Linked DNA regions of Homo sapiens. The protein of the gene in region 1 interacts with the protein of each later gene in a pairwise test. Each region holds a gene or a part of one and is shown on either strand. Other genes may lie near its edges.

Evidence for each region.
Region 2: the proteins of MRPL23 (region 1) and ASB10 interact in a two-hybrid assay, tested with the Homo sapiens proteins (one large-scale study listed by BioGRID and IntAct).

Annotation. Positions count from the first base shown.
Region 1 is NC_000011.10:1,953,533-1,957,222, forward strand, and holds the end of MRPL23 (large ribosomal subunit protein uL23m), read left to right. Parts: intron 1-2,078; coding exon of another isoform or gene 2,079-2,153; exon of another isoform or gene 2,154-2,249; intron 2,250-2,723; coding exon 2,724-2,888; 3' UTR 2,889-3,068; downstream 3,069-3,690.
Region 2 is NC_000007.14:151,184,170-151,188,541, reverse strand, and holds the start of ASB10 (ankyrin repeat and SOCS box protein 10), read left to right. Parts: upstream 1-1,291; 5' UTR 1,292-1,411; coding exon 1,412-1,727; intron 1,728-1,882; coding exon 1,883-2,150; intron 2,151-4,372. UniProt on the Homo sapiens protein: May be a substrate-recognition component of a SCF-like ECS (Elongin-Cullin-SOCS-box protein) E3 ubiquitin-protein ligase complex which mediates the ubiquitination and subsequent proteasomal degradation of target proteins.

The DNA.
Region 1 (3,690 bases):
TTTTGAGTCCCAGGCAAACCCAGAGGCACTTTCTCTCTGGGCCAAGATGTCCACAGCCTGCCCCGGCCGCCTCCTGGGCCTCCCCACTCTGCCCCTGGGGCTGGCCTTACTGGGTGGGGATGGGGTTGTCTTCCGGTGTAAATGGTCCCTGGAGGCCGAGCCGGCGGGCCCTGCCACTAGATGGCAGTCACACGATGGTGGAAACCGCCTCCTGGGCCAGCCGGCCTGTTGTGGGGCTAAGGAGGCAGTTTGTGAAAAAGGCCAAGTTAGCATGGCAGCTTTTCTGAAAAACAGTCACATTTGTTGTTCTAAACAGGGGCCCCCGGAATAATTTGGCCTGATATTTGCTGTGCATGAAATCAGCCAATCCAGGTGGGGAGAGCAGCCGTTGGCCTCATAAAGGCCTCTGTGTGCTCAGTGTCAGTCGGGCCCATCTGTCTTTGTCATGGCATGTGGGTGGACATCCCGTGTGCCGGCACCGCCACGGGCACTTCAGAGGCAGCTACGGTTACAAGTGGCATTCAAGTCATCCGAGCCCTTGCGTTCTTCCTCTGGGCCCCACCTCCCATGAAAACTGAACCCAGCAGCTCCGGGATCCGGTGTCTGCAGCTGCTGCCCGCGTGTTGTTCTCCCTCTGTGAAGTCCAGGCAGCCAGAGACAGGGCAGGGCAACTGGGAGCCTGAAGGGTCCCAGTTGGGCATGGATCCTCCTGTTCCAGAATGAAAATTTGTAACGGGTCCTCACCCCCCTTCCTGAACTCCAGCACATCTTTGCACAGCCTAGAAATGGGCCGTGGCCGTTGGTCCCTGTCTGCCCGCAGAGGGGACTCTCAAGGCCCTTTCCTGTCTCGTGTCTGCTGAGACCTTGCTCAGCGTGTCCCCCTGGGCCCTGCGCCAGGGCTTAGAATCACTGCTAATTGCAAAGCCCAGGGAGGGAGCATTGGAAAGGTAAAATTATCCACGTTATTTGGAGTTGGCCGCTGTGGAAAGGCCCTGTCCCACGTGGCGGGAGTCCCACATTTCTTTCTCCGACAACCTGATAAGCATCTCCTTGGCCCAAAGTCCTGGGAGCTGAAAGCAGCGCCTCAGTGACCCACACAACAAAAAGACCATTGACTGCCCGCTGCCCCGAGGCTTGTGTGGATGCTGAGCAGCGCGGGAATGAAGGGCGCGCAGGAATGAAGGGCGCACGACATGAGAGGCAACTCCAGAACAAACCGCTGCCGCCAGCTGGGCCGAGCTCCGTGCTCGGGGCTCCGGCCTCCAGGTCCAGGCAGGCGGCAGCCCCCAGGGCGCCCTGGGATTCCTGAAGGCAGGGCTGCCTTGTTTACTTGTCATTGGGACATTTTTCTCCATTCCTGTTCTTTACCCCGATCAGCTGTCTCTCTCCTTTTTGGAAGGATCAAGGGCTTTTTTTTTTTAGGTACAAGGTGAACTCTTCTAGAAAGGGGAAGCCCCTGGGAAACCATGCTTGGCATCCCCAAACGGTGTTTGTCTCCTGTAAGAAACGGATTTTCTCTCAGCACCTTTCCCCATTTCTTCCCGAAGCTGTGACAAATGGCCATGTTTGTGCTTTAAACTGTCATTTTGGGTTCCCCTTGCCTCGGAAAACTAGCAGAATCACCTCCATATAGTCAAGGTGAATCTCCCATTCTGGGCAGTCAGCCTCACGTGTAAACGACTGCCCCTTGGTATTTTAAAAGACGCAAAGTTCAGAGCTGTGTAAGGCAATCCTCCTGCAGGCCGGCTACGGCGCACGCAGTGCCACTCTCCCCGCCAGCCCCTGCGCTCTGCGCCAGGGATCAGGGTGCATACACCTCCCTCGCAGGGTGGGATCTGGGCCTGTTTCAGATCATACTTGGCTGCCTGCCCACATCCAGATTTATTTACACACAAAGGGTCTGCAAGAGCCAAGTGTACCTGACTGATTTTACTCACTAAAGGGTTCCAGATTCGGGTGCCATCCTCACTCCTCCTCCCTCTTCTCTTCCCTCTCCTCTGGTCTGCTCTTTCTGCCTCTTAGCTTTGGAGCACTTAGTAATCATTAGCAAGTTAAGATGGCTTCTTGTATTTGCTTAGGTCCCCAAGGAGCAGTATCCCCTCCTTCTCGTGAACCCGAGCCACATGCTGTGGCCTGGGCTGGGGCTTGGCTGACACGGACATATTCTGAACTCTCAGCAGAAGATGTAAGACCAGTTAATTGGCAGAGCCGGTCCTGATTTATCAACTGCCGCACGTGCATGTTTCTTCGTACGTGATGTTCACTTTAATTGCCAGGCTCTGGGCTGGGAGGAGGGGGAGCTTTAATGTGAGTAGAGCCTGAGGCATTTTGGATGGACAGGTTCAGCATGGTACCAGACGTGATTTGTGTCATGTTTTTCCATGCCTTGTTTCTGCCCCCCACCAACCAGGTGGCCCCGTGCTAGTAAATGGGTGCACCCAGGGCGGGGGCAGACACCAGGCCCTAAAGAGACAATGGTGGGGAAAGCGGCCCTGTCCTGGAGCTGTGGCCTCTGCTGCAGCGTGACAGCCGGGGGCCGGTGGCCGTGGGGGTGCTTACATTCCAGGCAGGGACGCTGCCCCAGGAGGCCCAGGGAGGTACCTCTGAGCAGTTGAATCCGGCGCCGGCAGAAAGGGGCTGCCAGAAAGCATGAGGCTCCCCCACAGACCCCTCTGCTGAGGAGTCTTTGCAGCTCTGGCTGGAGCCTTTGTTCTCCCCCTTAGGCCCATGGACAGACCTTCACGTTCCCAGATCTGTTTCCCGAGAAAGACGAGAGCCCTGAAGGCAGCGCTGCCGACGACCTCTACAGCATGCTCGAGGAGGAGAGGCAGCAGAGGCAGAGCAGCGACCCGCGGCGGGGCGGCGTCCCCAGCTGGTTCGGGCTGTGACGGGGTGGCCAGCAGGGACGCGCCCCAGGTGGGCAGCTGTGGCAGAGCAGCGACCCGCGGCGGGGCGGCATCCCCAGCTGGTTCGGGCCGTGACGGGGCGGCCAGCAGGGACGCGCCCCAGGTGGGCAGCTGTGGCAGAGCAGTCCCGACACCTAAATAAAAGTCTTGCTGCAGGAGAAAGAGCCGGAAGCTCTGCTTCCTTCTTCTCTTGGGTCTCTGGGTGCCAGACACGCAGCAGCCACCCCCCAGCTCTGAGCGCCACGTGGCCTGGCTCCGCTTTCCCAGGGTCTGGGCAGTGGGCGCGGCCGGGGTCTGGTCTCTGAGTTGACGGGGAACTGAGGGTGGGCAGACTTGAGACGTGGCCCCATGCTGGGGAGGCGGGTTGGCCAGAGAGGGCCACACACAGGCTCGGAGCTGCATGCCAGGTGGGGAATGAGACACGCAGGTGAAAAGACCCAGAAGATAGTTCTGAGCGCCCACATTCAGAGCCTGAGCCCAGAGGCGTCGGGAGGAATGGAGGGGTCAGCGTGAGCACGGGGCGGCGCCGGGTGAGAGAACGGCCTGGCCTGGACAGAAGTTCTGGGGAGGGGCTGCCAGGGCAGCAGCCCTCAGGGGGCCTGGTGAGGGAACTCCGGCCCGCCTGTGGGTTTCGGTTTGGCACTGTTGGCAGCAAGAACCCGAGAAGGGCCGGGAAGGGATCCGAGGGCAGCAGTGTCTCAGGAGAGCCATGGCGGAGAGGTGCCGTCGGGCGGAGAGGTGCCGTCGGGCACAGGCCCGGGGCTGGGCCTAGGGGACAGGGAGG
Region 2 (4,372 bases), on another chromosome or scaffold:
TCTCTTTTTTTCCTTTTGATCCACCCGGCCCCCAAACAAAAGTCAGTGCCTGAGTACACAGAGACATTTCTCCTTTCTCACTCTCTAGTGAAGAGACCCCATGTAACCACAGCAGGGGAGAGATGCCACCCAAGGTCATCCAGGGAGATGGGGGGGTTGGCATCAAGGACGAGCATGGGGAGTTTCTGTGGCTTGCCTGTGGGTTACGCTCTGTTACTCAGGCACACGTCTGTCTAAGGGAGCCCCCTGAGGGGTGCCTCACACAGCGAGGGCAATCTGTGTCACTACTGTGAACTCCTCCCTTGGTTTGGGAGTGGGAAGGTGCAGGGCTAACAGATGACATTTGGAAGGGCAGGAAATATTATCTGGCACCCACAGGCCTTCCCAGTGGGATCAGAGCCCAGGCAGCTGGAGGCCGATTTGGTGAACAAGAAAGAGCTCAAGGCCCTGGGTTCCAGTCCTGGCTCTGCAACAAGCTCTCTGCGTGATCTTGGGAAATTCACTTCCCTTTAATGCCGAGATGACGGACTGGGCAGCATGGTCCGGGTGGTCCCTTTCCACCCTGAGGTCATACAGCCCTGGGGTGAAGCTCAGGGTTGGCGGGCTCAGGCCTCACTTGTTCTCCTGCCCCTCCCTAATTCCCCCACCCGGCCTGACTGACAGCTGGGCCAGTCAGGGCTATTTATGGCTTTGCCTGATGTTGTGCTCCCCTGCGCCTCCCATGCTGGGCCCCACCCAGCTCGGGCCCAGCACCCACCTGCCCAGTCCACCAGCAACATCGCTGGGAGTCGTGCTGCTTTGGCTCTCCCAGAACAAGCCATGCCCTGGGGAAAGAACTCCTCTCCCCACTGGGGACACCATCTGGGGTGCCTTCCCTCCGCCCCGGCCTGCCGGATCTGGAGGCCCCACTCCCGCCCAGCCTGGGAGCCCCCTCGGCCATCACCACTGCTCTGCCAAGACATGGCCCTGCAGAATGCCCTCTACACCGGGGACCTGGCAAGGTTGCAGGAGCTGTTCCCCCCGCACAGCACAGCCGACCTGCTGCTGGAGAGCCGGGCCGCAGAGCCTCGCTGGAGCAGCCACCAGAGGGGTGAGGGGCATCTGGGGGTTGCTGAGAACCAGGGGGCTGGGCTGACTGCCTCGGCCACAGAGGTCCTAAGGGCTTGAGTGAAAGGAGAAGCCCCCGGCTGTTTCTCCCCGACCTCAAAGCTTGCCCAATAGCCTACACCTTGGCCCAAGAACACAGTCATGTGGAGCCCAGAATAGCTCCTGCTGGATGCGTGGCCAGGTCAGCCTCGGAGCGTGGGACACAGGGGCCTTCTGTCTGTCTGTATTTCCCTCCTGCTCTCTCTCTCTCTCTCTGCCTTTGGCATATACCTCTCCTCCTCCCCACTCCCCTTTCCCTGCCCACATGCTCATGAGTTGGTCTCCAGAAGAGTGCAAGGGGCAGGGAGAGCCCCTCGATGACAGACACCCCCTCTGTGCCAGGCTGGTGGAGAAGCCCAGCAGAGGGTCTGAGGAGCACCTCAAGTCTGGCCCGGGACCCATCGTCACCCGCACAGCCTCAGGACCTGCCCTTGCCTTCTGGCAGGCAGTGCTGGCTGGGGACGTGGGCTGTGTCTCCCGCATCCTCGCGGACTCCAGTACTGGCCTGGCTCCTGATTCCGTCTTTGATACCAGCGACCCAGAGCGATGGAGGGATTTCCGCTTCAACATCCGTGCTCTGAGTACGGGCCGGGGCACTGGGGGCTCTCAGTGGGAGAGAGGGGAGGCTGCAGATGGAGCTCTGGGCTCCCTCTTCCTGCCTCTGCCCACCTCACCCCATTGGCTGGAAGGTCTCTGCCTTCCCTGGGGATCTGAGGCCCACGTCTCCCCTCCCTAGGACTCTGGTCTCTGACATACGAAGAGGAGCTGACCACCCCACTGCATGTGGCAGCCAGCCGTGGCCACACGGAAGTCCTGCGGCTGCTGCTGAGGCGGCGAGCAAGGCCAGACAGTGCCCCTGGGGGCCGCACCGCCCTGCACGAGGCCTGTGCTGCAGGCCACACTGCCTGTGTTCATGTGCTGCTGGTGGCAGGAGCCGACCCCAACATCGCTGACCAGGATGGGAAACGCCCCCTGCATCTCTGCCGGGGGCCTGGCACCCTTGAGTGAGTGACCCCTCACCCCAACCCCCAGTTCCACTCTGAAGGGAAGCAAAGAGGCCTTCTCAGGGAGGATGGGGGAAAATGTCAGGGACCTGGGACAGAGCAGTCCAGGCTTGGGGCGCGGGTCAGGGTGCAATTACTTCCCAAGCCATCCACCCGTTGACCCCATGAACTTTGGAGTGGCCTGGACTTTGGACAGTTTTCTGGTCTCCCAGGGGTGGAGGGAGGCTGTGGCAGGGGTGCAGTTGCATGGCCCGCATTGGGAAATTGCCTGGCTCCATTATGGGGAGGTGGTGTTGCTTAAAATTTTTGAAAACACTTTCTGAGCTTATCCTATGTTCCAGGCACTGTGCTAAGCACAACAGCAACTAAGTCCCTGAGGCCCTGCCCTCAGGGAGCTTACTGTCCAGTGATCCAGACAGGGAGTAGAGGATGGTGGCCCCAGTGAGGACCTGCCTGGGTCCCTCTGGGTAGGGTCTGGTTTTCCAAGACAGGTCTAGAATCTCCATATTGGTAGGGCACCCTCAGATCATGGGCTCAAGGGACTCTCACTAACTAAACTCCCAAGAAACTGATGAATACACCCAAATGTGCCAATGTATCATTTATTGTAGGGAATAGTCCTTTGCAGTGACATAAATAATTGCAACCCAAGTGTAAGGAACGTTGTAGGATGGGATCCCAATTACAATTTTGTGAACTAACTCTACATCCTATAGAGGCCCTCTCTCTACTGACTGCACACCTGCAGGTCTTGTCTCTTGCCTCTGAAAGGTGCCAAATTATTGACCCTGGGGTTCTCCTTTCATGGACCCTCTCCTTCTTGTTAATCTCATCAGCCTCTAGAGGATTCCACAGGCTTAATCATACTATGGTTGAAGATGTGTTCTTTACTAGCGTGGCCCAGTGGAAACCTAATGTGAGCCATATATGCAATTTACAGTGTTCTAGCAGCCCTATAAAAAAAATGACAAATGGCCGGGCACGGTGGCTCACACCTGTAATCCCAGCACTTTGGGAGGCTGAGGCAGGTGGCTTGCTTGAGGCCAGGAGTTCGAGACCAGCCTGGCCAACATGCCCAAACCTTGTCTCTACTAAAAATACAAAAATTAGCTGGGTGTGGTGGCAGGCGCCTGTAATCCCAGCGACTCGGGAGGCTGAGGCAGGAGAATTGCTTAAACCTGGGAGGTGGAGGTTGCAGTGAGCGGAGATTAGATTGCGCCACTGCACTCCAGCCTGGGAGACAAAGTGAGACTTTGTCTCACAAAAAAAAAAAAAAAAAGACAAATATGTAAAATTAATTTTCAAAATGGTGGTAAAATATACATGAAATTTGCCTTTGTAACCATTTTTTATTTATTTATTTATTTTTTGAGACGGAGTCTTGCTCTGCCGCCCAGGCTGGAGTGCAGTGGTGCGATCTCGGCTCACTGCAAGCTCCGCCTCCCGGGTTCACGCCATCCTCCTGCCTCAGCCTCGCGAGTAGCTGGGACTACAGGCCCCCGCCACCATGCCTGGCTAATTTTTTGTATTTTTAGTAGAGACGCGGTTTCACAGTGTTAGCCAGGATGGTCTCAATCTCCTGACCTCGTGTTCTGCCCGCCTCGGCCTCCCAAAGTGCTGGGATTCCAGGCACGAGCCACCGTGCCCGGCCTTTTGTAACCATTTTTAAGCGTACAGTTCGATGGCATTAAGCACATTCATGTTGTTGTTCAACCATCGCCACCATCCATCTCCAAACTTTCTCATCTTCCCAAACTGAAATTCTAACCCCATCAAACACTAACCACCCACCCCACCCTGTCTCCCAAGCCCCTGGCAATCACTATGTTACTTTCTGTCTCTGAATGTGAACACTCTGGGGACCTCACATAAGTGGAATCATGTGGTATTTGTCCTTTTGTAACTGGCTTATTCCACTTAGCATGATGTCTTCAGACTTCACCCATGTTGTCCCATGTTTCAGAATTTCCTTCCTTTCTTTTTTTTTTTTTTACTCTGTCGCCCAGGCTGGAGTGCAGTGGCGTGATATCGGCTCACTGCAAGCTCCGCCTCCCGGGTTCACGCCATTCTCCCGCCTCAGCCTCCCGAGTAGCTGGAACTACAGGCGCCCACCACCGCACCCGGCTACTTTTTGTATTTTTTAGTAGAGACGGGGTTTCACCGTGTTAGCCAGGATGGTCTCGATCTCCTGACCTTGTGATCCACCCACCTCGGCCTCCCAA